4 separate regions of the Homo sapiens genome follow, and regions 1, 3 and 4 are each linked to region 2. The links come from fine-mapping of genetic effects on gene expression. A gene starts in region 2. Each other region holds a variant in brackets. All regions are shown on one strand. Distances are between the middles of the regions.

Evidence for each region. PIP is the estimated chance that this variant, and not a neighbour inherited with it, causes the effect. A credible set is the group of variants that fine-mapping cannot tell apart.
Region 1: its variant is the best candidate, but not a certain one, in a credible set for the expression of RALGPS2 in esophagus muscle (GTEx, PIP 0.59).
Region 3: its variant is the best candidate, but not a certain one, in a credible set for the expression of RALGPS2 in pancreas (GTEx, PIP 0.84).
Region 4: its variant is the best candidate, but not a certain one, in a credible set for the expression of RALGPS2 in fibroblasts (GTEx, PIP 0.83).

What each region holds. Positions count from the first base shown.
Region 1 is chr1:178,683,130-178,690,826 of GRCh38, reverse strand. No RefSeq gene overlaps it. Among named protein-coding and RNA genes, the nearest start is that of MIR4424, 9.2 kb to the right of the region's middle. RefSeq lists an enhancer at 5,657-6,856. The variant T/C (reference allele first, on the strand shown) is at 3,510.
Region 2 is chr1:178,721,047-178,728,743 of GRCh38, reverse strand. It overlaps RALGPS2 (Ral GEF with PH domain and SH3 binding motif 2), which reads right to left and starts at 3,500. Exons shown (of 20, transcript NM_152663.5): 1 at 3,325-3,500. It overlaps RALGPS2-AS1 (RALGPS2 antisense RNA 1), which reads left to right and starts at 2,460. Exons shown (of 1, transcript NR_187252.1): 1 at 2,460-5,735. RefSeq lists silencers at 2,691-2,920, 3,121-3,240, 3,501-3,670, 3,572-3,726 and an enhancer at 2,561-3,150.
Region 3 is chr1:178,652,710-178,660,406 of GRCh38, reverse strand. No RefSeq gene overlaps it. Among named protein-coding and RNA genes, the nearest start is that of MIR4424, 21 kb to the left of the region's middle. RefSeq lists an enhancer at 6,648-7,697. The variant T/C (reference allele first, on the strand shown) is at 3,202.
Region 4 is chr1:178,662,142-178,669,838 of GRCh38, reverse strand. No RefSeq gene overlaps it. Among named protein-coding and RNA genes, the nearest start is that of MIR4424, 12 kb to the left of the region's middle. RefSeq lists an enhancer at 5,260-5,469. The variant C/T (reference allele first, on the strand shown) is at 5,601.

The DNA.
Region 1 (7,697 bases), 38 kb after region 2:
ATTATTTTAGACCCAAGAAATCCAGAATCGACCATCACAGAGCCTGTGAAAGAAGATATATGGTGAGCCAGCCGCTGTCCCAGATTGTTTGCAGAACGGCACTCAGATCCCCAACACCTCTGCCAAATTAACAGCTGGTAACAGTTGGAAGCAACTGTCAGTTCTAGAATTTTGAGCTTATGAAAATCTTGTAATTAATGGTATTAGGGAACCGTTGCTCCTCCTGGTCCCATCCATCATTCATTGGAAGGTGACTGGGACCACTAGCTGTCGCATACAAGCTTAATCCTAGCTAGAACAGAAACTGGATTTGGAAGATGATAAAACCAATATCAACCAAGGGCAGATTGGCATTTAGAAGAAAAGTCTGCAGGAGAGCTTAACCTTGTCTTTTGAAAGAAGGGATAGGAGAAGAAGAAAAAGAAAGTATGGCAAAATAAGCTAAAAAGGCCCAACTACATATCTCCTGGGGGAAAAAAGTGACAATAAAAGGAAATGATAATGGAATATCTCTGGAAGGATAAGTAAGGAAGGAACTGATAATTGCCTCCCAGGAGGGAAACCAAGTGTTAGGAGTTTGGGCATGGAAAAGACTTCACTGAATTACCTTTCATACATTTAGGCTTTTGAATCATACATTTTTAATCTTTTTTTTAAAATGTAACTTTAAAAAAGAAAATAACAAGGGAATATTTCTTAAGATTATAGTGGTTTTAAAACAATCCTTGTGAAGGAAGGATAGGATCAGTTCAATAAAATCCAGACTTAACCTGGCTCTTTTGCAGAGATTCAGAGACAGCATGGCCAAGGGTGTGCTGCCTTAGGCCTGATGCAGGAACAGCTGGCTTCGACTGGAGCATTACATTCTGATTGAAGGCCAATGCACGTTCCTCATTCTTCTCTAATGTTTCTTGCTGTAATACCTCTCTGAAACTAAATATTTCCTTTTTTGGAGAAGGATTAAATATAGGCAGAATCCTATTTTAACAACTATCACCACACTGTCCAGTTCAATATAACAAAGTTCTTTTCCTAGCCAACAGCCCATACTAGCATGGTTTTGTTTATATTTTTTGGTATGTATAGAGGCAACAGTAAAGGATTTTATACACACACACACACACACACACACACACGTATATATCTTCTTGAGAAATTATATATATACATACATTTTATGCATGTATGTGTATATATACAGATGAAAATATTTCAGAGACATAGCATTATCAGGACTCAGAACTAACTATAGAGGTGGTGTCAAATAGCATATAAAGTAGTTAATGTGTTATGTAGGATGTAGCAGCAGAGATGAGTGTGTAGCACAGAAAAACACAGCATTCAAGAAGCAGTATAGCATAGCAATTTAAGGCATGGACTCTGGAGTCAGGCTACATATGAATCCCAGCTTTACCACTTGATTAGCAATGCAACTTTTAGCAAGTCATTTTCCCCTTTTGTGACTCAGTGTTAGCATCTGTAAAATGGGGCTAATGATAGCATAAGTCTCAAAGTCTTATTACAAAGATTAAGTTAGTTAATAGATGTCTGGAATAGTGATTGGTCACATGGTAAGAACTACCATAAATAAGTATTAGCTATTGTCATTCTACAAAGAGAACTTTGATAATGTGGACCATGCCACATTCCCTTTGGCCCCCAGATAGATTTTTTTTTTTTTTTTTGAGACAGAGTCTTGCTCTGTCACCCAGGCTGGAGTACAGTGGCGCCGTTTGGGCTCACTGCAACCTCCACCTCCTGGGTTCGAGAAATTCTCCTGCCTCAGCCTCCCAAGTAGCTAGGATTACAGGCACCCGCCATCATGTCCAGCTAATTTTTGTATTTTTAGTAGAGACAGGGTTTCACCATCTTGGTCAGGCTGGTCTCGAACTCCCGACCTCAGGTGATCCATCTACCTCGGCCTCCCAAAGTGCTGGGATTACAGGCATGGGCCACCGTGCCCAGCCCCCTAGATAAATATTATCACCCATGTGTGAGGATGTATTTTATCAGAGTCTCATCATGACCTGGGTGAAATAGTCCTCAAGACAATCCACTCCCTTTCTCTTAATTCCATGCTCACCCAGCAGTTGTCTTTATTACTAATCCAGCTTTCCAATTTTCTACCCCTAGGAAAGGGAAGTGTGGTGTTCTGAATGAAATGCAGGTCATCTATCTCCTGCAAAAGGTCATCTCCATTGAAAAATGAAAGCATTGGCATTCTGATTTACATGTCCATCTCATGTGAGTGTTCCACTGAGTCTGCACCTCTGGGAATACACTTATAAAGTCTAGTTTATGGACCTGCCCAAACTGAGGTCCAGAATCTGGATCTTGGTAAAGTCACCAAGGAAATGTCAACCCAGAGGCCTCTTGGGGGTGCATGAGCTGTGTTCTTCCCCAGGAAAGACCTCCGGTGCTCTTACTTCATCGTTGATGGCAACCACTCAACATGGTTGCAAAACATGGTGGTTACTTTGCTCAGAAAAAAAATTTTTTTTTTAAACAGTACTTGTGTATAGTAATTATTTTGAAAACCTGCAATTTGTTAAATACACATGTCAAAATTAAACTAAGCAAGGAGTTGGTAATTCTGTTTCTGAAAGCTAAAGCAGAAACAGAAGGGACTTTGAACTTTTTATAGAAAAGGATATTCTGAAATATCAAAAGTATATTCTGAAATATCCTTTCTATTTTCTCCTGCAAGCTCCTGGGTGTTTAGGGTTTGTGTTCCCAAATGATTCGTAAAATAGGTAGTTTTCTGGTGATAGTTGTTGGAATTGGGGTGATCAAAATTCCAGTACAGTTTCAAGTTCAGACATAATAGCAATACATTGGGATCCAGGCTCATTAGAAAGCCTCTGTGGCCTGCCATGGTCAATCTCATCTACAATAGTAGGTTGTGTTCTGGGAACCTGGTAAGCAGGTCACTGACAAACTGAAGTCTGTCCAAAGGCAGGCAACTCTAGGGAAGAACCATCTCACACATATCAGTCAGGATATTTTCAGTTGCAAGTAACAAAGCACTAGACTCAAACTGGGCTAAGCAAAATAGTATGTTGACTTGTAGTTGAAATCACATAATTCTAAAGTAGAATTGCCTTCAAACAAGGCCTTTCTTCTCATACAAGAAGTACTCAGATTTTTCTCTCCATCTCTCCACCTGCTTTTTGAATATTGGTGCATTTTTCAGTAGGCTCTTCCCTTCATGGTCCAAGATAAACGTCAACAATTCCCAAGGTTCCATGCATCCTCATCTTCACCCCACACTTTAAAACTATCATTTCTAGTTCACCCCTGAGATTTGTTCTGATTGGACTAGCGTTGATCAAGTGTCCACCCCTTGAACCCATCTCTGTGGCCAGGAAAAAGGAACGATAGCCTAGGTCATATACTCCACCCTTGGAGCAGGGGCAGAGTCAGCTTCTCCAGAACCAGATGGAGCCCCGCTCAGAAATCAGGGGCTATTGGGTCAAGGGAAGAAAAAAATAAATGCTGCAAGAGGTAAC[T/C]AATAAAGGTATGTGCTTGATCATACGAGGAACATTTGAAGGAATAGTGTCCTTAGCTTAAAGATGAATAGACATGAAAAGGACAAGGTAGTTTAAGATTTGAAAGTGTTATTTGGAGGAAGCGTCAGATTTACTGTGTGTAATTCTAGTACTGATGGTTAAGGGGATGCAGATTTTGATTAAATTTAAGTAATTCACCCACAAGGGAAAAAATACATTCATAACAAAAGGGTATATTATGAAACTTGAAAATCTTTCTCCTCCTTTCCCTTTCCTTTCCTGCCTCTCACCTTCCTCCATCTCTACTCTCCAGAGATAGCCTGTGTGAACTGTTTAACGAAAAGAAAACCTTTCTTAAGATTAGAGCTACCCATAAGGACTTGGCTATGTCTTCAAGTATTGATTGCCCCATCATCTCAAGTAGGATATTTTAAAGATTTCTACTTTAGGTGGAATATGGACCAAGTCACTATAAGTAACTATAAGATACCAGTACTCCATTTTTGAGGCAGCATGACTTAAAGACGGGCTGAGACAATTTAAGGGGGAATTCCTGCTTATAAAAAGGTGAGAAAAATTTGAGACATTCAAGAGTAAATATTGTTTGTTGATGGAACAAAAGAACTGTGAAATCCCCTTTCCCTAAAACCAAAGCTATGATGGCAGATGGAATGAGTAACTAGGTAAGGAGGATGAATAACTAGGTAGGAGGATGAATGAAATTGAGATGAGTAGATGTGAAGTTCAGTCCTGTCAAAAAGCACTTGAGGCCAGGTGTGGTGTCTCATACCTGTAATCCCAGCACTTTGGGAGGCTAAGGTGGGCAGATCACTTGAGCTCAGGAGTTTGAGACTAGCCTAGGCAACATGCCAAAACCCTGTCTCTACTAAAAAAAAAAAAAAAAAAAAAAAAAAATTAGCCAGATGTAGTGGCATGTGCCTGTAGTCCCAGCTACTCAGGAGGTTGAGACAGGAGAATCGCTTAAGTGTGGGAGACGGAGGCTGCAGTGAGCCAAGATCGTGCCACTGCACTCCAGCCTGGGTGACAGGAGTGAAACCCTATCTCAAATAAAAAAATAAAAAGTGAAAAATTAAAAAGAAAAAAGCACCTTGAACCAGATCACAGATGCAGGAATGAGCAGAAAACTTAGGAGAGGCAACAACACTCACACAGATGGCCAAGGCCCCTCTGGCCTGTGAAAATACTGGTTTGACTGAATGTTATTTGGGATCTTTCCTTTACACATGAATAATTAAATGTATCCCATGTATGTTCTGAGCTAAAGCAGAAAGAACAGAAAAACACTTAACCTTTTCAAAATTATTTCACAGCTGAACTTGTTCCAATTGACTCCTGATATGTTAATGAAATAGTAGTGGTTGTCATTTAATGTTTCTAGTGTGATCAGAATCAGAAGCAAACGAAATATTCTGAATTTTCTCTTTCATAGACTGTAAGAGTAATAGAAATGAGATTATGTCTTGTCCAGGCCTAGTAAATAAGTAAATCTTAAATAAATGAATAAATACCATTCATTAGGGTTTGCCTCTGTTTCACATTCAATACATCTACCTAGCATTCAACACATCTGATTTAATGAAAACTTCAGAAAACCCTGTGAAGTTATTATTACCTCTATTTCACAGATGAGAAATGAGGCCTGGAAAAGTCAAATAACTTGTTCAAAATCACACAGCTAATAAGTGGTGGAACCAGGCCGGGCGCGGTGGCTCATGCCTGTAATCCCAGCAGTTTGGGAGGCTGGGGCTGGTGGATCACCTGAGGTCAGGAGTTCAAGACCAGCCTGGCCAACATGGTGAACCCCGTCTCTGCTAAAAATACAAAAATTAGCCAGGTGTGGCAGTGGGTGCCTGCAATTCCAGCTACTCAGGAGGCTGAGGCAGGAGAATCGCTTGAACCTGGGAGGCGGGTGTTGCAGTGAGCTGAGATCACACCATTGCAATACAGCCTGGATGACAGAGTGAAGCTGCGTTTCAAAAAAAAAAAAAAGTACTGGAACCAGAATTGGGACCCAATTCTATCTGACTAAATCCATATCCTTTCCACATCCCCCTGTCTTTATGTATGTGAATGTATAGACAGAGCATGTTCATGACTCTACATGGTCAAATATCATGCATGTGTACAGAGCAATCTCAAAATAGAAGTTTTTAGTTCTTTCTAAAAACAAATTTATCCAGGGGAGAAGATCATCATAAAGACATAAACATGCCTACTGGATTTTCAGAGGCTCCTATAAGTTCTTTAATACTTAGATATCTGGACTGCAAAATAGTCTTATTTTTTTCCTTTTGTTGTGGATTTATTTTTCAAGGAGTTGTATAGCAATGACACATTGGATTGTTATTTCTGAGGCTTGTTTTGAAATATGTATTGAAACCTATGAACTCTGCAGTTCCTGTGGTCACACATTTTTTCTTAATGACTGTTAAATGATGTGTTTTTTTTCAAAAGCTCTAAGAGAGCATGACCTTTACCCAACAGGTTTCAATTTTCAAAAAATATTTCCTTACTTTTACACTAAGCTAGATATTTATTTTCATTTCCCTAGTTTCCCATTCACTTTAGCAGATCTTCATGTGCTCAGCCTCTATGCCAAGGCCTGTGAGGGCTTCAAAAGGAGGACACATGGGTTGGTTAAGTTTTCCAGTATCAGCTCTTCAGAGAGCCTGGCCTTCACCACCCAAGCAGACACCCTCCCCCATGCCCACCCTCATCATTCTCTGAATAAGGTACGCTTTTCATCTCTTCATTTCTTCTCACAATCTGTAATTGTTTCATTTATCTACTTGTTTATTAACTGTTGTCCCCACATAAATTTTGCTTTTTTTTTTTTTTTTTTTTTTTTTTTGATGCAGAGTCTCGCTCTGTTGCCCAGGCTGGTGTGCAGTGGTGTGATCTTGGCTTCCTGCAACCTCTGTCTCCCAGGTTCAAGCAGTTCTCCAGCCTCGGCCTCCTGAGTAGCTGGAATTACAGGCATGTGCAACCACATTCAGCTAATTTTTTGTATTTTTAGTAGAGATAGGGTTTCGCCATGTTGGCCAGGCTAGTTTCAAGCTCCCAGCCTCAGGTGATCTACTCTCCTCAGCCTCCCAAAGTGTTGGGATTACAGGCATGAGCCATCACGCCTGGCCGACATGACACAAGTTCTGAGAGGGCAGAGATCTCATCTGTCTTCCTCACTGCTGTGTCCCCCAGCAACTTAGCATAGTACTTGGCACAGAAAGCTCTGAATAAAAATTGCTGACTGACTGAATGAGTAAATGGATGTCTCCAGAACCTAGCAATGCCTACCACATGGTAGGCGCTCCATGAACCTTTTCTCATAATGAATGAAGTCATCAAGAAAGGAGACAGGATTTGACCTGTGATGTGAGGATGTGAGGTAATGATCGTGAAGTTCAGTCCACTCAAAAAGCACCTGAGGCCAGGTGCGGTGGCCTATAGAGGGGCATTCAACCTTTTGTCTGTACAGAACAGGCATTTTTTTTTTTCTGGCAAATGCTCCTTAAAACCATGTGGGGGCTACTAATCATGAAGTACTTCAGAGGTATGGCACATGCTCAAGTTGAGTTAATCAGTGTTCTTCTTTCTTCTGGGCACATTGACTGGTCTCTAGATAGGCACAAAGTCCCGCCCAGGTCATTCAGTGTCTTTTTACCACTCATTTTCAGACTCAAGCGGAAGAAAGATATTCCTTTTTTCTCTAGTCAGAGAGCTGCAAGGATGTGTGCCCAAGGCAGCTATGTCTTCAAAGCTGGTCTGAGAGGATGATGCCAACAGGCAGAAATTCAAAGGCAGGGGATGGTAAGCAAGCCCCAATGGCCAAGGGCCAGAGGACTTTTTCAAGGCTTAACTGTTCAGCTTCAAATCTGTGAGTGAATCTTGTGTCTTATCATAAATAACCTCCCTAAAAAACAAAAACTTAAGTGATTAGGTTGAATCTGAGAATCCCAAGTAATACAAATATGGGTAGGTGAACAGGAGTAGGGATGAGCTTTTGGATAAAAGCACGAAGGTTAGATTAAATATGATTTTTAGGAAAGTTCATAATGAAACGCTTAAATGATAGGTGTTTATGACCTTCAGCCAATGTATATTACTGCTATCTCTAGTATGACCCTCATTTATACAGTTAGCTTTTTCCATTAAAATAGGAAATGGAAT
Region 2 (7,697 bases):
TCTTTATTCTCTCACTAAAAAGGATTCAATAGGAAATTTAAGACACATTTAAAGAAACAATTTACAGGGTAATGCAATACATTCATTTTCCTCTCCAAGGAACTTCACTCAGGCTGGGGTAGTTTCAAGCTATTTGAATTATCTTTCATTGAAAATTAACTTAAAAAAAAGTATTCATATTAAAGTGACAATTTTATTCCAAATACAGTCGTTACACAATAAATATCTCATATTCAAAAAATGGATACACTTCAATATCTTATTCTCAAACTGTGTATCATTAAAATTAAAAGTAAACCCAAACTATGTGCCTATTTTACATAGCAAAAAAAAAAAAAAAAGCATACTTTCGGAGAAAATGGGTTTAAAGTTTAACTCACAAAAGAAAACAAATTTGATTCAATAAATTTCAATTAATAGTTTGGTTTATGGTTTAAAAGTTATTTAAAAATTTCTGAAAAAGCAGATTATCAAGGAATTGGTTCACTCACAGTCAGCCAGAAATAAAAAGGTGATATTTTAAAATTTTAGACCAAAAAAGAAATTTAGATTCCCTTATAAATAAATGCCGAGAGAATATTTTCAGCAAACATTCATTTAACTACATAAACCAAAAGAATAAGGCTGTCTAACCACATGTAAACTACGCATCATCTGACTTCAGGTAGAATGTTTATCTTTGGTATACTTGGTAACCAGAAACCCAAAGTATATAAACATAGGCATATTCTAAAAACAATTGTCTTAATGTTTTTGTTCGCTAGGCAATAATTCCCACAATTCTCAGAAAGAAAAAAACAATATCCTTAACCAAAAAGTTATCAGAGGAGTTTCTACTTCTTAAACTTTTAAACAAACATATTTGCCCACTTATCATTTAAGCCCCATCAGGGCTTAAATGATAAGCCCTGTTGTGTCTCCCCTGTTGTGTCCCCAACCTCTAGGGAACTAACTGGCACCAAGTAGGTACCCAATACACATGTGCAGAATGAACTGAGTCTCTGGAAAAAGCTTAAGTGTTTTAAGTTGCAACAGGACAATTTCACCTATATATCCATCATTCACTACACTGAACTCTAATGACGTAATAAAAAGACTCGTACCAGGTATTTAAAAACACACACAAAAATATATTACTCACATATGTATCTGACTCACAAAGCCAGTTTTTCAGTTATGTTTTCTCTCAGGAAAATTTGTTGTATTCTTTCTAGTATTACTAATAAATATTAGAAAAGCACGTTGTGTTCTGCCAATGCAAGCATTATCTTCAAACTTACGTTGCAATCTGAAAAAATTTAGGCAAACTAAACAGTATTTCCAGAGTCCTGCCCCAAAGTATTACTAAAAGTCAAATTCCTTAATTCAATGAAAAGTGAAATAACGCACAGTGGCGCATGCCTGTAGTCCCAGCTTCTTGGGAGCCTGACACGGGAGGATCGCTTGAGCTCAGGAGTCTGAGACCAGCCTGAGCCAAATAAGGAGAACCTATCTTAAAAGGAAAAAAAAAAAAGTGGAATATAATGGGAAAAACGCACATCTTACCGTTCAAAAATTATGCTGAATTTTAAAAAGAAAAAATGAACTACGCTTAAAATAAATACACTGAAATTGTTTATCCCAAATGGCATTAATGCCCTTACATTTTGATATTTAGATCTGCCTCAAAAGACCTTTGAAGCTACATGATAAACTTCATGCCTACAAAGCTTGAGTTAGAGGTTATCTTTGTTAAAATAATACTGTTTGGATGCTCAGTTTTGGAAGTTTCCTCATAATTCTAAATTAAGATATTTAGCCGTAAGAGTAATACACTTATGTGTATGATTCTATAGCACTTGTTCTATAGCACTTGTACAAGCATAATGATCTTGAGTGGAACAGGCTTTATAATGAGCAAGCTATGATCTGTCTAACAGCGATACTCTGCAAACACGGGCTGAAAAGTTTCCTAAAATTCTGATGGTCATCTTCAAAGAAACTTGAACAGGAATCGATCTAATGGTGGACACAGAAAAATACCCAAGTCAACTCATGAACACTGGTAAGAAAAGGCTCTCTATAGCAACTAAAGTGTTGGGGAAAAAAAATCCAGGGAGCATAAACGATAAAGCTCAATTAACTGCTGCTTGTGTGATTCCACTTTATGGTCTTAAATACACAGTAGGCATTAGATATTTCTTTTGGGGTTTTTTTTTTTTAACAGAAATTTAGTATTTCAATTGCCCCTCCTCCACAGCTAACATCAGTGCCCTTTCTTCCTCCTCCCTTACCCCTCCCAACTCAAACAAATTAACATTTGTACTAGGTACCTCCTATCAGCTCGCAGCTTCTTCCCAAACACGCCCACGTACACTGAAACTGGCTTGCGTCTACACAACACACAGCTACAGGAAAAGAGCTTCGAGGGGGGAGCTGGGGCGGGGGGTTAATAATTCGCTCCGCACAGGTTTACGGCTATTTTCCAGAAACTAGTTCCTCGCTCGTGGCTCGCGTTTCTTCCAAATCACCTCAAAAGCACGGTGTTTATGAGCCTACCTAATCCGATACTGCAATGGAATTCCGGATATTTGCAGACAGATCTCCCGGCTTTGCAAGTGTTTGATGAGATACGTTCGGAATCTCCTTTTTTTTCTAGAGCCCGGTTCCAGGCCGTAGAGCAAGCCGACCTGGGGCTGCGGCCCCTGCCCCACACCCGGCCCGCGCGCCCGGCCCGAGGCCAGCACAGGACGCAGCCCCTCCGGGGCCGGGGCTGGCGGGGGCCGCTCGGGCTGCGGGCCGCTCTGCAACAGGTCACCCTGACCGCGACTCCGCGGGTTCGCGGGCGGCCAACTCTGCGGCCAGGCTTCTGGGCGCAGCCGCCAGGGCCAGGGGAGGGGGTGTGGCCCGGCTTCTGCTGGTCCTGGCTCCGAGGTCCGGGATCGGGCTCACCTGAAGGAAGACTGAGGCGCCGCTGGGCGCCAGAACAGAGCGGGCGGAGGCTGGGGGCTTCCGCCACCCAAGAGGGAGAGCGAGGCGGGTTCAAGGGGTCGCAGCGCCCCCGGCTTCAGGACGGCGCCCCCGAGCGGGGACCCCACGGCCGCTCCGACTCTGAGAACCCGCGGCCGAGGGAGGCGCGCCGCCCAGCGCCCTTCTCCCTCAGCCTCAGCCCCAGCTCCGCAGCCCCCTCCCTGCGCGCAGGGCGAGCAGCCCCGGGGCCCGCGGCCGGGAGAGCCACACTCCGCAGCGCCGCCGCCGCCATTCCCCGCGCCGCCCGGGGGGCGCCGCGTACCCACCCTCCCTCCCTCCCTCCCCCGCACCGCCCCGCGGCCTGAGCCCACCGACCTGTGCAGCCGCGGCCGTCGCCTCAGAGGACGGAAAGACGATGCCGGCCTCACGCTTCACCGCCACGGCCGCCGCCGCCTAGAGTAGCACTCGTCGACCCGAACAGTCACCGTCTCTCATTCAGCGCCCGCAGCAGCCGCCGCCGCCGCCGCCGCTGCCGCTCGGGGGAGGAGAGTGAGCTGGAACCACCCCGTCCGCGCCAGGGGTGGGGGACGAGAGCGGACCTGGCGGGGGCGCGCGCCAAGCGGGCGGGGCGGAGCCGCGCGCGCGCGCGCACCAACGGAGCGCGCTCGCGGGGGCTCTGAGAGCTGCAGCCGTCAGGGTCTTAACCTCGCGCTTCCCGCCCGCAGCTTTTCGGCCCCGCGGAGCCCAACTGCCGCCGGTGATCGGTGCCCGCAGCGCGCGCAGCCATCCGCAACCCCACCGCCCGGCGCCTGCTGAAAGGAGGGGCTCCCACCGGCCAAACAACGGGGGGGGGAAGGGGTAGGAGGATGGACAGGTGGGGCGTCCGCCACCGCCTGGCCACCCGCTCCCGGAACGCGGCCCTCTGTGAAATCCGCCGTGATGTCTGTGGCCTTCAGCGCCGGGCTCTTCACCTTTAAGGCCAGAGAACAAAGTCTGGAAGCACTTGGCCCCAAGATCAAATATCCAGCCCACGCCAGCGGTGTTTTTAGAAGTCACTGAGGACAAATGAGGGGGCTCCCAATGTGGAGAGTCACCCCACTGTCTTAGATAAGGTCATAAATTATGGTGATCAACATCCTCACACATTAAGATTCGGGAAGTGTTAGAAGTAGGCCTTTGTAAGATGTTACGCAGGGTACTACCCTTGACTTAAGGAGCAAATGACAGAAATTGGGCGGAAAGGTGTTGTTTCAGAGTCTACTAAATGGGTGGCCTACTTAAAGCTAGCACCATTTGATGCAGTGTGACTGTTAACGGAAGGTTTTAAGTGAGCCGCCTTTGTATCTGCTGTCATTAGACCATTTGGAAATGGATAATTATTTGATGATCTGCAGTTCTTTCTCTAGGCAATGTGCAGTAGAATGTGGAAAGAATACTATGTACCAGCATTAAGTGTAAAACATGAAAGGACCAATAATTCACTATTCCCATTTGGTTTCTTTCTTCCCTTTAATAACCGCTAAACAGAACTGATTAATCTTGAACGTTGAAGATTGCTAATTATTTCCTCCTTTGATTGCCTTCTGTCATAGCCCTTTTACTCTAGTTGGGGACGCTAGAATGCCCTTCAACCTCCTTCTCTCAAATAGGGTTACTTTAAAGCACCCCAACGCAAAGTTAAGTCAAAAAGAAAAACAGCGAGGATAGGCAACAAAGTTCGTAGTGTTTCATTTTTATTCCATTTTACTTTCAAAGAAAGTCTTGAATCATGACGAAATCACTAGAAGAAGTAGAGCAATCAAAAGAAGAAAAAAAGCGTTCCCCCCCACCCAATATTTCAAATGACAAGAGTCCAAAAAAGAAAAGAAAAAGGAAGATGATTGGTAAAAAGGAGGGAAGTGCATTATGTATACAGAAAGTTTTCGCATAGATGTTAGTTGCTTCAAGTCCCAAATAAACAACAACTAAATGAATTAGCACTTGGAGGAAAAACCCCTTCCAGTTATTGAGTTGGGTAAATGTTTAGTCTTCTTAAAGTGTTACTAAGAGATTAAGGAAAATGTCGTTGGCTATATGCCAACAATAATACATGCAACATACATACCATTATCACACATAATTAACTGCTCTTAAGAAATATGAAAACTGAGGAACGGAACTCTTATGTTGTTAAATGTCATACAATTACTTGAAACTTGAATTAGGGTTTCATAGATATAAATGAGGCAGGGTCCCTACATCTGCCAATAATTTTCACAGCTTATTGTAAAAGCAGTGAAGTTTTCACTTGGACTTTGAAAAGAAAAAAACATATGACTCATGAGCAAGGCCATGGATACACTAAATTCTTATGCCTACTGAATTTGAGTTTGAATAATTACCCCAAATCTGTTTCTCACATTGATAACTTATAAAACAATACTTTTATTAACCTTAAGAGTTGTGTTAAGTTCAAATTTGTGAACTTGGTAAGATTAAGAATTTGTATATAGGCCGGGCGTGGTGGCTCACACTTGTAATCCCAACACTTTGGGAGGCTGAGGCAGGCAGATCACCTGAGGTCAGGAGTGCAAGACCAGCCTGACCAACATGGTGAAGCTGGTCGCTACTAAAAATACAAAAAAATTAGCCGGGCGTGGTTGTGGGCACCTGTAATTCCAGCTACTCAGGAGGCTGAGGCTGGGGAATCACTTGAACCCAGGAGGCAGTGGTTGCAGTGAGCCAAGATCGCACCACTGCACTCCAGCCTGGGCGACAGAGGGAGATACTATCTCAAAAGAAAAAAAGAATTTGTATATAAAAATAGAGAAAAAAGTTTGTCCTCAATATCTTTTATAAAATAAGTGTCCCTTCCCATTCCTTGATAAATGAAAGCAGTGGCTTTTTATACCAAATTTTCTTTACCAGAGCACTTTTATCACAATTAAATTCTGTATGTTGCTTTATGGATTCCAATTGCTTTTGCCAAAATACAAGAAATATGCAAAGTCTTAGTATAACAAAAAGTACTAATGTATAAAATAGAAATGCCATTATATGAAATAGAAATCGATAAGAATTCAATATGCTTAAAAGTCATTTCAGAGGAATCACCATTATGTAATAGTTTTATTACTATCCATCCAAATTATTTCCAAGGGGCAAGCCAAGGAACTAATTTAGATATAGAACAAACAGTTCAAAGAGACCACCACTGCAGTAAACCAATCAACAAGCAACACAATTCATTACAGCTGTCAAAACAAAATCAAACTGGCATGGTAAGAAAGCTTATTTTTTCAGTAATACTTAATTCTATTACAACCAAAAGAATTTCAGTAATAACATATACCTTTGTTATTTCTCTAACCTTTCATCTCTTTTTTCAAATGTATATAGTGGCTGGACATTTTGAAGAAATTTGTTGGTTGTGTTTACGATGTCACAATTTAAAATAAAGGCAAAGTTAGCATTCCCAAAATTCACCTTGAGGGAAAGGACGCATAAGGGAACTTCCAAGGGCTAGACAGACATTCTCCAGAAAACTGACACTATGGTACAAGGAGAGCCTGCCGTAATTCCCAATCGACAGAGATATGTCACAAGTCTTCAGATACCAAAACAAAGATAATCAACAGTCCGTTCAAATCTGAGCACCATATTAATTTTACAGTTACATTTACAGTTAAGCTGCATCTCAAAGGGGCAACTCTATGTAGGGTGTTAAGCAGCAGGGATTTATTTGCTTAATGATGGTTAATGTTTTCCTAGACTAATTCTTCAAAAGGCCGGAAAGTATATAAATGTTTGCATACACTAATGCTTTTCAATATTAATTTTAAAGATAGTTTTAGTAGGGCCGGCACAGTGGCTCAGGCCTGTAATCCCAGCACTTTGGTAGGCCAAGGCTGGCGGATCACGAGGTCAGGAGATCGAGACCATCCTGGGTAACACGGTGAAACCCTGTCTCTACTAAAAATACCAAAAAAATTAAAAAATTAACTGGGCGTGGTGGGGGGGCGCCTGTAGTCCCAGTTACTCAGGAGGCTGAGGCAGGAGAATCGCTTGAACCTGTAAGGCGGAGCTTGCAGTGAGCCAAGATCATGCCACTGCACTCCAGCCTAGGCGACAGAGCAAGACTCCGTCTCATAAAAAAAAAAAAAAATAGTTTTAGTAATGACTTGTTTATCTGACAGTATTAGGAAAGGGGGCAGTAAAGGATTAGATATAATTAGATATTCTAAATAACTGAGATTTTCATCTTGAAGTACTAGAAACAATTTAAACCACTTTTATTTATTTTTCCTGAAATATCACCAACTCCGTCTTAAACTAATAAAACACAGCACAGTTGTCTTGGTATCCACAGGAACTTCCGGGATACCCAAATCTGTGGATGTTCAAGTCCCTGATATAAAATGGCAGAGTAGGTCACGCATGTAATCCCAGCACTTTGGGAGGCCGAGGTGGGTGGATCACGAGGTCAAGAGATCAAGACCATCCTGGCCAACATGGTGAAACTCCATCTCTACTAAAAATACAAAAATTAGCTGGGCGTGGTGGCGGGCACCTGTAGTCCCAGCTACTGGGGAGGCTGAGACAGGAGAATCGCTTGAACCCAGGAGGCAGAGGTTGCAGTGAGCTGAGATCGCACCACTGCACTCCAGCCTGGCAACAGAGCGAGACTCCGTCTCAAAAAAATAAATAAATAAAATGGCAGAGTATTTGCACATCACCTATGCACATCCTCCCCTATATTTCAAATCATC
Region 3 (7,697 bases), 68 kb after region 2:
GCCTTCACACAAGAACTAATACTTACTGGATTCTATAGCAACAAACAATTATTTCTAACCAGTGAGTATGTGAGGTCCTCCTGGCTGGGTCCATTCTCAGATTCAGCTGTGACCTCTAAGTTTCTGAGACATATTCCAAGAGCAAAGGGGCTTCTCCTTGGGATTTCTGCTTAGGCTGTGGGGAAATCTAATTGTAGCACCCTTTATCTGTTCCCAAGGTACTTTGCCTGAGTATTGTGCCGGCAGCAGAATACTCCTTTATTCCCAACTTCAGTCACGACATGACACCACACTCATCCTTGACACCTTGACACCCCACTGGAAAATGTCACGTCCCCTTCAAATAACTCCTCTATGTGACACATTCAAAATTTGCTCTGCTCTGACCCTTTTTAACCTATTCAATCTCAGTTCCTTTTTGCCTCTGTCATTTTCTCTCTGCCTCTATTAGATCAGTTTATTTTTATTGCCACACGAATCTTGTGGTTTCCCCACCTAGCTTATGTTAGGCCCTTTCTTCTTTTTTTTTCACCTACTCAAATATTTCCAGCCCTTCCAAAGCCCCAGATAGAATCTTTGTTTTGTTTTTGGTTTTTGTTGTTGTTTTGTTTTTAGTGTACTAATACTCATTATTCTTCTGATTCCCCAAACCCCCTTGTTATTAATAGCTGATATCCGTTCCTCATTTGTTCTTTCATTCTTGCAACAAATATTTACTAAGAACCCACTATTGGTGCTATAGTTTGGATATTTGTCCCTGCCTAACTCTCATGTTGGATTGTAATCCCCAGTGCTGGAGGCGGGACCTGGTGGGAGGTGTTTGGGTCATGTGGGCAGATCCCTTATGGATTGGTGCTGTCTTCATGACAGTGAGTGAGTTCTTATGAGATCTGGTCATTTAAAAGTGTATGGCAACTGCCCCACTCTATCTATTGCACCTGGTCCCACCATGTGAGACACCTGCTCCCTCTTCACCTTCTGCCATGATTGTGAGCTTCCTGAGGGCTCCCTGGAAGCCAAGCCGATGCCAGAACCATACTTCCTGTAAAGGCTGCAGAACCAGAAGCCAATTAAACCTCTTTTTTTCTAAATTACCTAGCCTCATGTATTTCTTTATAGCAACACAAAAACAGCCTAATACAGCTAGTGACCATTCTGGAACTCAGGATGCCATGGTAAGTAAGACAGTCTTTGCCCTCTTGGTGATTTTATTCTAGTATGGCAGACAGATAATCAGGTAGTAAGTAAATAAGTAGTATAACGGACTGAGACAAATGTTGTGAGAAAAAATTAAAAGGCAGGGTAAGGGCTAGTGCGTGACCATAGGAATAAGAGCTTTTTCCATATGGTGATAGGGAAAGGCCTCTTTGAGGAGGAGACACTTGTATTTGAGGAGAGACTTAAATTATGACAAGAAATCAACCATAAGCTGGCCGAGCGCGGCGGCTCACACCTGTAATCCCCACACTTTGGGAGGCCAAGGCAGGCGGATAACGTGAAGTCAGGAGTTCGAGACCAGCCTGGCCGACATGGTGAAACCCCATCTCTCCTAAAAATACAAAAATTAACTGGGCATGGTGGCAGGCACCTGTAATCCCAGCTACTCGGGAGTCTGAGGCAGGAGAATGGCTTGAACCAGGGAGGCGGAGGTTGCAGTGAGCTGAGATCGTGCCCTTGCACTCCAGCCTGGGTGGCTGAGTGAGAATCTGTCTCAAAAAAAAAAAAAAAAAAAAAAAAAAAAGAAAGAAAGAAAGAAAAGAAAAGAAAAGAAAAGAAAAAGAACGAAAAGAAAAGAAATCAACCATAAGCTAACCCAAGAGAAGAAAGGGAAAGGGAACAGGAAGTGAAGTCCCTGAGGCAGGAATGTTCTAGAAAGATGAGGGGTGCTCTAGGAGACCAATAAGAAGGCTAACATGGGCAGAGTGTAGTAGGAGATGAAGATGGATGGGAGGCAGAGGTGAGAACCTGCAGGGCTTTGAGGGAGAGAAGAATCAAGTGCAACTCCTTAGGCTGGGTGCGGTGGCTCATGCCTGTAATCCCAGAACTTTGGGAGGCCAAGGCAGGTGGATCACTTGAGGCCAGGAATTTGAGACCAGCCTGGCCATCATGGCAAAACCCCATCTCTACTAAAAATACAAAAATTAGCCGGGCAAAGTGGCACATGACAGTAATCCAGCTACTTGGGAGGCTGAGGCAGGAGAATTGCTTGAACCCAGGAGGCAGAGGTTGCAGTGAGCCGAGATTGTGCCACTACACTCCAGCCTGGGCAACAGAGTGAGACACTGTCTCAAAAACAAAACAAAGAGCAACTTCTTAATGTTAAGTCTAAGTGCCTGGATAGATGATGTTACCACGTCCTCATAGGGAAAGCTTGGGGAAGGAAGTGAATGCAGATTTGTATGGGGTTATTGAATCTGGAAACAAGAATTTCTTTTTGGACATGTGAAGTTTGAGAACCTTTGAGACATCCAAGTGTAGCTGTTGAGTAGACAGTGGGATATGTAAGAGTTTGAAGCTCAAGGAGCCATCAGGCTAGAGATACAACCTGGGAATTCACTTAAGCTTAGGGATGAGAATGTAAATTGAGAAGAGGCCAGAACCCCGGAGCCCACAGGCATTTAGAGGTTAGGAAGGAGGAGATAGAAGGAAACTCCAAACATGTGGCCTTTGAGGTGTCCCACATATTTGGACACATCCATGGTGTTGTGTGGCATGCCAATAGTTTCACGTGCGCCGGACTTACCATGAAAACCAAGGCTGCAAACTTCCTGAGACCACTCATATTTCTCCATGAGAGCAGGGCTAAAGGTCCAAAATGTTTTATTGGTGTGTAGTCTTGGCACAGTCCCTGTTTACCATGTATTTCTTAGAGCAAGGAGTGTACACTGCCAGGCTATTGAGGGAAGTGTGGCTTCTTCCTTTCTCAAGGACTATATCTTTGAGTTAGTTAAGAATTCTCAGACTTACTTTACTGGCAGTGAACTGATGCACAGAGAGATTAACTGATTTATGCCCAGCCCAAACTGAGTCAACAGCCAGCCCGAGGCCACACTGCAGTGTTTATTAAATTATGGACTGAGGATTGCCAGCATCTCAGCCACCTGGAGTGTTGCTTAAGAAAAAAAAAAAAAAAAAATAGGCCGGGCGCAGTGGCTCATGCCTATAATCCCAGCACTTTGGGAGGCCAAGGCGGGCGGATCA[T/C]GAGGTCAGGAGATCCAGACCATCCTGGCTAAAATGGTGAAACCCCGTCTCTACTAAAAATACAAAAAAATTAGCCGGGCATGGTGGTGGACGCCTGTAGTCCCAGCTACTTGGGAGGCTGAGGCAGGAGAATGGCGTGAACCCAGGAGGCAGAGGTTGCAGTGAGCCGAGATCGTGCCACTGCACTCCAGGCTGGGCAACAGAGCGAGACTCCGTCTCAAAAAAAAAAAAAAAAAATGCTAACATATATGGGTTATCTATTAAGTGCTTTACAAATGGCAACTCTTAATCCTCAGAACAACTCCATGCAAGAGGCTTATCATCACCAATTTACAGAGGAGGAAATAGACATGAGAGAGTTCCACAGGTAGCAAAGGGGCAGATTAGTCTAGTTCCATGCTCCCAACCACAATGCCATACAGCTTGCTGAAACAGAATCTCTGGAAATGGGACACTGGAGTAGTCTGTATTTAGAAAAATTTCTGGGGGCATTTTTGTGTACTGTATATGAAATCTTGAGAACTGATGTTTCACTGGATCTCAAGTTTGTTCTTTGAAGCTCAGGAAAACCTTACTTGCTCTACTATTTTTTTTAACATCTCTAAGTATCCATGTTTAAGTAAATGTATTAGTTTCAGATTATTCTTGGTAGTATTTTGTTAAACACAGGTAACAACTTACTGCACAGTTGTCATTTCAAGAGGTAAAGCATATGATTGCACATTAAACCGGCTGGCATTGTCTAATATGTTGACAATAATTACCTAACAATTATTGACATTGTTGCATCCTACTGTCAAAAGGAATAATGTGTCTTTTTTTCCCTGTGTTCATGATTGGATACATTTGCCTACAGAGATCCATAAACAATAATGAAATAAATCAATCCTATGGCGAATGCAGTAGTATGCATGACTCCATGGTGGCAGTTTGCCTTGCTGGCTGAGAGGAGGTGGTACTCTGACACGTCTCAGCTCTGCACTCCTTAGCCGAGTAAAGATATGGCCTTTTGATGTATGGGATATCCCAGAGAGCTCAGACATTACTCTCTGCTGACCTTTGTGGATGGTCTCAAGAGCTTATGGGGTGAAAGAAATGAAGTCATAGGAGTATTTAAAAAGAAAGAAAGAAAGAAAATAAATAAGTCCAGTTCAGTTGAAAAATAGACACATGTTGAATATCCAAGGCCTTTAGATCACAAGAGATAACATTAAGCAAACTCCTTTCTGTTAACAAGAAATTGTGCTTTACTGTCACAGATCTCCACCCAGATTGCCCCTTGAATTTGCATTATTCACACAATGAGACTGGTTTCACCTGTTTGCAATTGTTTTAACTATTAGTCATCAGTTCAGAGGTTGCTTAAGCTTATTTCGCCTGCAGTTTATCTTATACACCTTTTATTTATTTATATATTTTTGAGACAGAGTCTCACTCTGTCGCCCAGGCTGGAGTGCTGTGGCACCATCTTGGGTCACTGTAACCTCCAGCTCCCAGGTTCAAGCAATTCTCCTGCCTCAGCCTCCCAAGTAGCTGGGATTATAGGTGTGTGCCACCATGCCTGGCTAATTTTTTTTTGTACTTTTTTAGTAGAGATGGGGTTTCACCACATTGGCTAGTCTGGTCTTGAGCTCCTGACCTCAGGTGATCCTCCCGCCTCAGCCTCCAAAAGTGCTGGGATAACAGGCATGAGCCACTGCACCCAGTCCTTATGCACATTTAAAAATTACACATTAGAAATCAACAAAGGTGACACGCCTGTTATATATTGTCAAAGGAGAAAAAATATCTAAAAACAATTTGGAAGAGAAGTGAGGCCATTACACCAGGGAGAACTAAAATCTTAGTCTTTTTTATGAAAAGAAAGAAAGATAAATAAATGGGGTGGAGGATGGGTTATCAGGTTTAGAAAAAAGAAAGAAAGAAAAATACAAGATGCCCAATTAAGTTTGAATTTCAGATAAACAACAAATAATTTCTTAGTTAAGTATGTCCCTTGCATGTCTGAGATATACTTATGGTGAAAAATTATTTACTATTTATCTGAAATTCAAATTTAAGTGAGTGTCCTGTATTCTCTCTGGCAACCCTGCTTAAGTAGTGCCTTTTTAATCTAAGTTTGAAAAAAATCCTTTTAGAAAACAGATGTCTTCAGGAAACTGGGTCATGGATTCAACAGCATAAATACTTGCTAATTATGTTGCACAGTGTCATGGGATTACATATTTATTAAATATAAATAAACTAGCAATAATAGTGACTGAAACTTACTTTGATTTGAAAACCCATCCATTTTATTTATCTTTTTTTTTTTTTTTTTTGAGACAGAGTTTTGCTCTGTCTCCCAGGCTGGGGTGCAGTGGCACGATCTCAGCTCACTGCAACCTCCACCTCCCAGACTCATGAGATTCTCCTGCCTCAGCCTCCGAGTAGCTGGGATTACAGGTGCCATCACCACACCTGGCTAATTTTTGTATTTTTAGTAGAGACGGGGTTTCACCATGTCGGCCAGGCTGGTCTTGAACTCCTGACCTCAGGTGATCCAACACTTGAGATAAACTGAGTGGGCTTCTGCTCCCTGCAACAAAAGGAGCCTGATTACTACAGATCTGCATCTTCAGGTAAATAAAATAACTCAGATTCTCAAGTTGGAATCTTTACCATCCTGATTTGAGAAGCAATAAAGAATCAAATCACCAGACAATATGTACTCGCAGTTATCAAATACTGCCTTTACAGAGCTATTAGTTGTCTTAGGGAAACAAGGCAAAAAAATCATTAAGTGGGTGAAATGTTTGCATTTCTCTTCACATCTGCAGCAAAGAGCTGACACTAGTTTAAAACCTACAGACTGTGGAACAAACTGCTTTCTGGTCTGAGTATTATGGGTTATTCAGCCATTAGCAACATTGCTTTTTCTTTTCTTTTTTTTTTAACTTTACAAGAAATTTAAATAAAACTTTCTTTACCCTGAGTGGATTTCACGTTTTGGTCAACCCTGGCCTTTTACTACCTACGTAGACCTCAAAGAGGGGCAATTAATTTCAAGTGTCTTAGGAGGAAATAAGTTCTCACAATTATGTTTTGAAAGTGTTTTTGAAATTATCCATGGTATATTAAGGGAGATTTATCTGCTGGCTGATGGAAATTTAAACCTAGCATTCAAGAGAGAGGTTAGGACTATAGGTATAGAGACTTGGAAGTCATTGGCATATAGGTGATAATTAAAGCTCCAGGTAATTAAAACAAGTTGGAAGGGGGATTGTGTACAGTGAAAAGACAAGAAGACAAAGGTTACTATCTAGGGCTTTTTCCCCAAATCCACCATCATCAGATTCACTTGTGGAACCTGTTGTTCTCAGGTCCTACCCTGGACCTATTGAACCTAGAAGATTGAGGCAAGGGTGACTCCCAGGAGTCTGCATTTTGAAAAAGCATCCTAGGTGATCCTTATGCAACCCCACAGAGCCAAGGCTTTATTTGCCTCAGTCAAAAAAAGAAACATCCTGGATGGTGGCTCCTGGATGGTGGCTGCTGTTGGTTAAAGCTACAACTGCACATCTATCAGTGGTTCCTGGCACACAGGACTCAAGAACTGCAACATTCTTGAGGCCAGTGGGACCTCCAAACATCAGAAATTAGTTAAAGATACGATACTTAAATGGGATTGGTCACAGCCTTGGTTCCTTGTCCCTGCACTGCATGCTTCCATTGCCCTACCGTGAACCACTTAGGGTATACGAGGAGCATTTGTGAATTGCCATAGTGGATTCTTCCGGGGATTCCTTGGTAGGGCTTTTTCCTTGACTGAGTCACAGCAGTGGGTTGAAGGTAGAGGATCCGAGGTGGTGGCCAACTCAGAGGCTATGTAAAGTGAAAGAACATGACTCAACAATGAGTGATACATAGTCACTAAGTGCCCTGTGCCCAGCTTGGCCTTTGTACCAAGGCCTCCTCTGTGCCCTCTGCCAGTAGGGTGAGGAAGCCATAATCATACAGGCCAGAACGCAAGCACTATGAGAGATTTGGGAGCACCAGCAGGCCATAGACTTCTGAACCCAAAGTTACCTTTCTGGAGGTTGGTGAAGGGGATTGCACTGACCATTGGCCATTGGGGCTGCCTGGAAGTTCCAGAATGTGGCCCCAGAAGCACTCCAGGGGGCTGGGGAGGTATGCCCAGAGGGTTTATTTGAAGAGGGCAAGCTGTGTGCCACCAGAAAGAATCACTCTTATGCCTAACAGCTGCAACTGGCCTGGCATAGACCAGGAGGCAATGAGTCGGGTCAAACCAGTTCTAATAGCGCTTGCCTCCAGTGGTGCTTGGCAGTCAATCCTATAAGATGCTTTGATTTTTTTAACTGGTGACTATTTTGTAAAGAACTATTTTTATAATATATGGTATTTTTGCTTAAGTAATTTCATCTTCAGCTCACGATGAATTTGAAGAAGTGTCTTTCAACAGAACTGGATGTTGCTGAGGAGTGACAGGTTGCTAA
Region 4 (7,697 bases), 59 kb after region 2:
AAAATATACTCATAAAAATATTGGCTTCGAGTTGATAGAATTAACTTTATGGTCTTCAACAAAAACACACTTTTTCTATTTGTTAGAGAAATCCTGAAAGTATCTGAGTCTTTGAAATAGTAGTACTAAAACAAAGTAAGAATGACCTCTTGTTCCTGTTATTCAACACCACCAATGCTACAACCAAAAAAAAAAAAAAAAAAAGAAAAGAAAGAGAGACAATAAGAGAAAAGAAATTTTCTTAGCTGAGAACCAAAATAGTTGCCTCAAGAAGTCTGCAGTATTTTCTAATCTATATAGTTATGGCTGTAAATTAAAGGAAATAAAATGTGTTAAAACACACAACATGACACAAAGTAGATGTTCAATACCTGTTAGTTGAATCTTCATTTGATTCTAAATCTGAATGGATGGTAGAAAATTTGTGAACTGTAGCACTCATCAATTCTGCCATTTACAAAACCTCTTTTGTGACTATTTCCTCAACTGATACGACTTCATTGACTTAGGTGTTAAACCCAATAGAACATTTTTTTTTTTTTTTTTTTTGAGATGGAGTCTCGCTGTCTCCCAGGCAGGAGTGCAGTGGCGCGGTCACGGCTCACCGCAAGCTCCGCCCCCCGGGTTCACACCATTCTCCTGCCTCAGCCTCCCGAGTAGCTGGGACTACAGGCGCCTGCCACCACGCCCGGCTAAATTTTTTTTGTATTTTTAGTAGAGACGGGGTTTCACCGTGTTCGCCAGGATGGTCTCGATCTCCTGACCTCGTGATCCGCCCGCCTCGGCCTCCCAAAGTGCTGGGATTACATTGTTTTTTAATTAAGCACTTAATATATTCCTAGCCTCATGTATGTTTTAGAAGATTTGTATTAATTAGCTTCCCTTTAAATCTCTCTTTTCCTCTCAAACCTCAGACAAGAGTCAGTCAGGGTGGAAGCTTTTTCAGGTTAGGATCTATTTATAAAAGGCATGGTGTGTTTAAACTTGTGTCATTGTCACAACTTGTAGGAAAATGTTCAAATATTTAAAAAGCAAACTAGATCATTTGAAGGGCAAAGAGAAATAGCTTTGATCCATAGATTTTACCAAGAACTATTTGCATGTTCTATTTTGCAGAGCCTGCACATTTATCTGCAGATTATGAAATGTTTTGTGAACACTAAAGCAGAAAACTCCCCAGAGTAGACAATCTTCTGTCTTCCCTTGTTACTTCTATCTTGCAGAACTTCTCTAAGCTGTAATTCTTGCTTCTGTGCTCTTTAGATGTCAGCAGTGGTAAGAATAGACTCTTTACATAAAGGGAGGAAGATCTGACTGCGAACAGGAGAAGCGGCATATGCCATGCTACCCAAAGGGCAGTTTCTCTCTCTCTCTCTCCTTCCTTCCTTCCTTCCTGCCTCCCTCCCTTCTCCTTTCTCGTTCTCTCTTTCTTTCTTCTTCTTTTATTTTTTTATTTTTTTTTATTTTTGAGATGGAGTCTCACTCTGTTGCCCAGGCTGGAGTGCAGTGGCACTGCACTCCTGCGCCTCCTGGGTTCAAGCACTTCTCTCACATCAGCCTTCTGAGTAGCTGGAATTACAGGCCTGCACCACCATGCCCGGCTAATTTTTCTGTTTTTAGTAGAGATGGGGTTTTGCCATTTTGGCCAGGCTGGTCTTGAACTTCTGACTTTAAGTTATCTGCCACCTTGGCCTCCCGAAGTGCTGGGATTCCTGGGATTACAGGCATGAGCCACTGCACCTGACTGAGGACTCCACTTTTTAAATCTCCTTTTTAAAAGAAAAAAAAAATTGAGCTCAACTGCATGAACTCCACTTTTTAAATCTCTGTGGAAGTAAGAGTAAGAGTACCTATGGGGAAACTCATGGCAGGAAAGGTTAAAACCAAAGGGGCTACTTCCCTTCATCTCCCCACCAGAAACTAAAAACTTCAACAACACTTGAATCAAGGGGCTTTGAAATTGTCTGATCCTCCATCAGTTCTTTGGATGAGAAATTGGTCTGGGCCAATTCCTTGGTAGAGTAGATCTACTGAGGTTATTTCAAATACAGCAACAATCCAGGACTAGCCCACGTTAGATAACTGTTGCTTTTATAAACTTATTTTGTGTGTGGTAAAATACACATATCATAGCATTTCCTATCTTAATAATTTTTAAGCATACAAGTCAGTGGCATTAATTACATTCATAACAAGTTCATTTATTCATTCATTCAACATATCTTAGTTGAGTGTATGCTATAGGGCATGCATACTGTCTGATCTTAAAAACAAAGATCCCTAGTTTCATGGAGCTTTCTTCATTCTAGCAGAGAGAGGCAGAAAACTAATAGCAAACATAATAAATAAATAGATTAGGTGGCATGTTAGTAGGTGCCAAAGGCTATGGTTAGGTCCTGGGGCACAGCGTGCCCAGTGTCTGACGGCTTCTGCATCTTTCAAATAGTCCAGAGACCCTTGCTTATCTCCTACCTCCAAAGTCCCACCTTCAAAGACTATTAGTGAACTTGGAGAGTTCACTGGTGTATTAGTAGTTCGTTTTCACGCTGCTGGTAAAGACATACCCAAAAACTGGGAACAAAAAGAGGTTTAATTGGACTTACAGTTCCACATGGCTGGGGAGGCCTCAGAATCGCAGTGGAAGGTGAAAGGCACTTCTTCCATCGCGGCAGCAAGAGAGAAATGAGCAAGATGCAAAAGCGGAAGCCCCTGATAAACCCATCAGATCTCGTGAGACTTATTCACTATCAAGAGAATAGCACGGGAAAGACCAGCCCCCATGATTCAATTACCTCCCCCTGGGTCCCTCCCACAACACGTGGGGATTCTGGGAGATACAATCGAGTTGAGATTTGAATGGGGACACAGCCAAGCCATATCAACTGGTTACCTGACTGAGTAATTAACAAAGAAAATGTGTTCCTTTGAACTGATCTATACGACAACTAAATATACAACAAATGCTGATGGCAGTTGGGGCTGTCAGTTAAAAAGTGTAAAGGTTCTTGCTACACATAGTGTGTTTTCCCCAGACAATAGTCTTCACTTTGAGAATAAGTGTCAAGACAGGTAATTTAAACAGAAAGCCATGCTTTTTTTCACCAATAATGTGATTTTTTAAATAAAAGAAAGAATTATATAGAAATATATACATTTTGAAAATTCTGTCACCTCAAAACCTAAAGTGGCCAAGGACAGAAGAGATGAGGAATGCAGTGATTTATGGTACTCTGCAATGACAATGGAAAACGAATTTTGAAATGCTTTCTTTTGTCAAGTGCAAGGATGCTATCAGATGTTTCCTATAATATATTTTGAGCTTCTGCTTAGGCTGTTTCAGGTAGCAAGGAACACTGTTAACAGAAGTTTATTATAAGCATATATGTGGAAGGAAATAGTAAGCACATGATTATGAAACTAGACCACACCTTGATCATGATCAAAATTAACGTTACCAATGCAGGACAGATGGACATCTGTGCCTCCAGCTGTGATACTTCAAAAAGGACACAAAATCACTAATGTAGTATTCCAACCAGAAATGCATAACCTGGGAGAATATCAGGTAATATCAAGTTGAGGGATGTTCAATAAAGTATCTGACTTGATTTCTTTAAAAATGGCAATGTTATAAAAGACATAACATTGAAAGGCTGAGCCAACGGTTCCAGATTAAAGGAGACTGAAGAGTAGCATAACCAACTCTTCACCCATTCACCTAGGACTGAGTAGTTTCCCAGGATGCAGGACTTTCAGTGCTAAAATGGAGAAGGTCTGGGAAAACAGGGTTATTCTGAATTGATGACTTGATCACCCTGCTGAGGAGACATAATCATTAAATGCAATATGTAAAACATGTGATCCTGGACTGGATCGTGGAATGGAGTGAAAAAAAAAACATGCTACAAGTACATTATTGGGATAATTCACAGAATTAGAACATCAACTTAAAAAAAGTACAGTAAAGTACACAAAACATAAAACTTACCATTTTAACTATTTGTAGATGTACAGCTCAGTAGCATTAAGTCCATTCACACTATTGTGCAACCATCATCACTATCCATCTCCAGAATGTTTTTATCTTTCCATACCTAAACTCTATACCTGTCAAATAATAACTCCCCATTTCCTCCTACTCCTAGCTCCTGGTCACCACCATTCTACTTTCTGTCTCTAGGACTTTGCCTATTCTAGGTATCTCATGTAGGTGAAATCATACAGTATTTGTCCTTTTGTATCCAGTTTATTTCACTTAGCGTAATGTTTTCAAGGTCTATTTATGTTATAGCTTGTGCCAGAATTTCATTCCTTTTTAAGGCTGAATCATTTTCCATTGTATGTATGTACCACATTTGTTTTTGTTTTTGTTTTTGTTTTGTTTTGTTTTGAGACAAAATCTCACTCTGTCATCCAGGCTGGAGTGCAGTGGCACGATCATGGCTCACTGCAAACTCCACCTCCCAGGTTCAAGTGATTCTCCTGCCTCAGCCTCTCAATCAGCTAGGATTACAGGTGCTCGCCATCACACCCGGCTAATTTTTGTATTTTTAGTAGAGATGGGGTTTCACCATGTTGGCCAGGCTGGTTTTGAACTCCTGACCTCAGGTGATCTGCCTGCCTCGGCCTCCCAAAGTGCTGGGATTACAGGCGTGAACCACTGCGCCTGGCCACATTTTGTTTATTCAGTCATCTGTTGATGAACATTTGGGTTGTTTCTACCTTTTCGCTGTTGTGAATAGTGCTGCTATGAACAATGGTGTAGAAATGTGGGGTTTAACATTGAACTATTATATCAATGTAAAATTGCCTGAATTGGAGCTGTGTACCACGACTGTGTAAGAAAATATCTAAGGAAATACATACTGAAATATTAAGAAAAAAAGTGATATATGCATCCTAGTCTCAAATGCTTCAGACAAAAATGAGAAAGAGAGAGAAAGAAATGTGGCAAAATGTTAAAAATTGCTGAATCTGGGTAAAGGGTATGAGTTCTTTGCAATATTCTTGCAACTTTTCTGTAAGTTAATTTTTTTGAGTACAAGAGAAAGGAAGCAAGGGAGAAATTTGATGTATGATATGCGGTCCTTGTGGAGAAAGAAGAATCTATGAAAAGCTGGTCCTCACAGAGCTTGCAATGTCATCAGGGTAATGGAAGATAACGCAGGATTCATCACAGCTTACTTGGGTATCTTGTCCCTATGAACAGAAGTTGGCAACTATACCTATTTCTAGTGCTCGCTCTTTCAGTTTCCAAACTACTCTTTGCTTCTGCCGCTACCAACTAATTTCTCCATCCTGTCCTCTCTTCCTCATCTTCAGCTTGCTCATAGCTTCTATTTTCTTAGGGCTTCTACTTCCTCTTCTCTGTGTGTGTGTTGGCTGCTGCTGCCATCTTCCTCCGGTCCAGGCAGCTGTTGTGGGGTCATGTGGTACACAGCGTGACAACCTTTGCATAGGAGGGCTGCAGCCATGTAACATAAGTGTCTTGCTTGGCCAGTCTAGTCCAACTAAAAGACTATGGTTGGAGCCCTAGATGTGGTGTAGGGAGTTGGTGGTGAGAAAAAGCAAAACACCAAATCTCCCCTGAGGCATTGTGA[C/T]CCATGTTTGATTTACCTTGGAAATATGAGGAAAAAAATAGAAACTGTGTATATGAAAGTTCAGTAGAATTGGAGGAGACAAGATTTCATTGTAGTTTTGGAGAACATTTTAAGGTTGAGTACTGGAAAAATTCGTCTCTCTCTCCCTCCCTCACTTCATTCCTTCCTTTTTCCCCTGATTTCCTTCCACAAAAATTCATTATGTGCAAGGCATTATAATAGTTGCCACGGGGAATCTAAACTGTATAAGATGTGGTCCCTGCTACAAGAAGCTTATAATCTAGGGTAGTGCATTTTAAACTACAGGCTGCAACCCATTAGTGATTAGTAGATTGTGAAATCAAATCGGTGCATCTGACCAGCATTTAAAAAAACTGAAATTCAATAGAAAGCTCTTAGAGTCCGTCACACTTGGTCATGGTAAATACTGTTGAATGAACATTTTTATAGGTGTGTGTATGTGTACACAGGATTGTGACATAAAATGTATTTCTGCTGTGGGTTATAGAAAAAATAGTCTCAAAGCCATTGATCTAGTAGAACTTAAGCCTATAGCTTCAGTGATCATCCCAGTGCTGATGTCTATCTCCAGCCTAGAACTTCTTCCTGCTCCACACACGGCTTTTCAACTCCCAGCTGGACATCTCAAACTAAACATATCCCATATTGCCCATATCATCTTCCTCCCTAAAATGTTTCTGTTCCAGACATTGAATGTTGGTTAACGACATGCACATCTATCTGGTCATTCAGGACAGAAGACTGAGAGGTACCTAAAGTGTCTTCTTCTGTGCCTTCTCCACTCATTCTTCACATTCAGTTAGCCAATCTGCCTCCTCCCCTCCATCCTTATTAGCACTCTTTGGTTTAGGACCTGTATAATTTCTCTCCTAGTTTCTTGCCATACCTTCTTAACTGGTCTCCTTTTCTTCAGTCTTGTTTCCTAACTCCTGCCCAACAAGTCTGTGTCCTACATTTATTCCCAAGTAATCTTTTAAAAATGCTAAAATGAGTCAGGTGCAATGGCTTACACCTACAATCCCAGCACTTTGGGAGGTTGAGGCAGGAGGATCACTTGAGCCCAGGAGTTTGAGGTCAGCCTGGGCAACATAGTGAGACCCTGTCTCTACAAATAATATTTTTTTAAAAAATTACCCAGGCATGGTGGTGGTATGTGCCTGTGGTCCCAGCTATGTGTAAGGCTAAGGCAAGAGGATCGCCTAAGCCCAGGAGGGCTGTGATTGTGGCACAGCACTCTAGCCTAGGCAACAGAGTAAGACTCTGTCTCAATTTTTAAAAAAAATGTTAACATGACATTTTTTTCTGGTGAAAAACCTTTGATGGTTCCCCACTGCTTTGAGAAAAAATGTCTAATCATGAGAGCCAACATCTTGCTTGGTCTACTTTTGCTACCTTCATCAGCCTCAGTTCCTCATCCTCTCTTAGCCTTACCCCTGATTCTAGTGGTACCAACTAGCTCAGGTGCTCTCATATTTCAGTGACTTTGACTCCCACCTTGAATGTGCTTGCTTCGTTTCTTCGCCTGCGTCTAAATCTTACCCCTCTTTCCCAGCACAGCTCTAATGTCACCTGGTCTTGGGACCCTTTCTGACTGCCCTCCAAGGTTCTCCTTGCATCCTAGGCACGCTGCTGTCCTAGCTAACAGCGCGGTCATTGTTGTTTGGGTTGTCTTCATTATGACCTAGCTGCTAGCAAGGACTCTGTTTTGTTCATCTTTATAAAATAAGCAACTAGCCCAGTACTTGACATCCTAGGCACTGACCAAACATTTGTTGAAAAAATGAATGAAGATGAAATCTCTCAACAGCCCACTCCTTGATTATAATGATAGTATCATAATAATGTTAAATAATTCTTGACAATACTCTTGTTTTCAAAAGTCTTTAGAAGTAGAGGGTGACTGGTTGGCTAGATGTGCTTTGTCTCTATCAGTCCTTTTTCCACCGTCCCCTTCTCTGTCTGGTTCCGATGAGACTAAGAGAACATTGCCATCTGCTTGTAGGAAACATCCAGGAATTCTCCCACCAACAGATTCCTGTTAAAAAAACATACACACAGCCAGAAAAGACAAGAAAA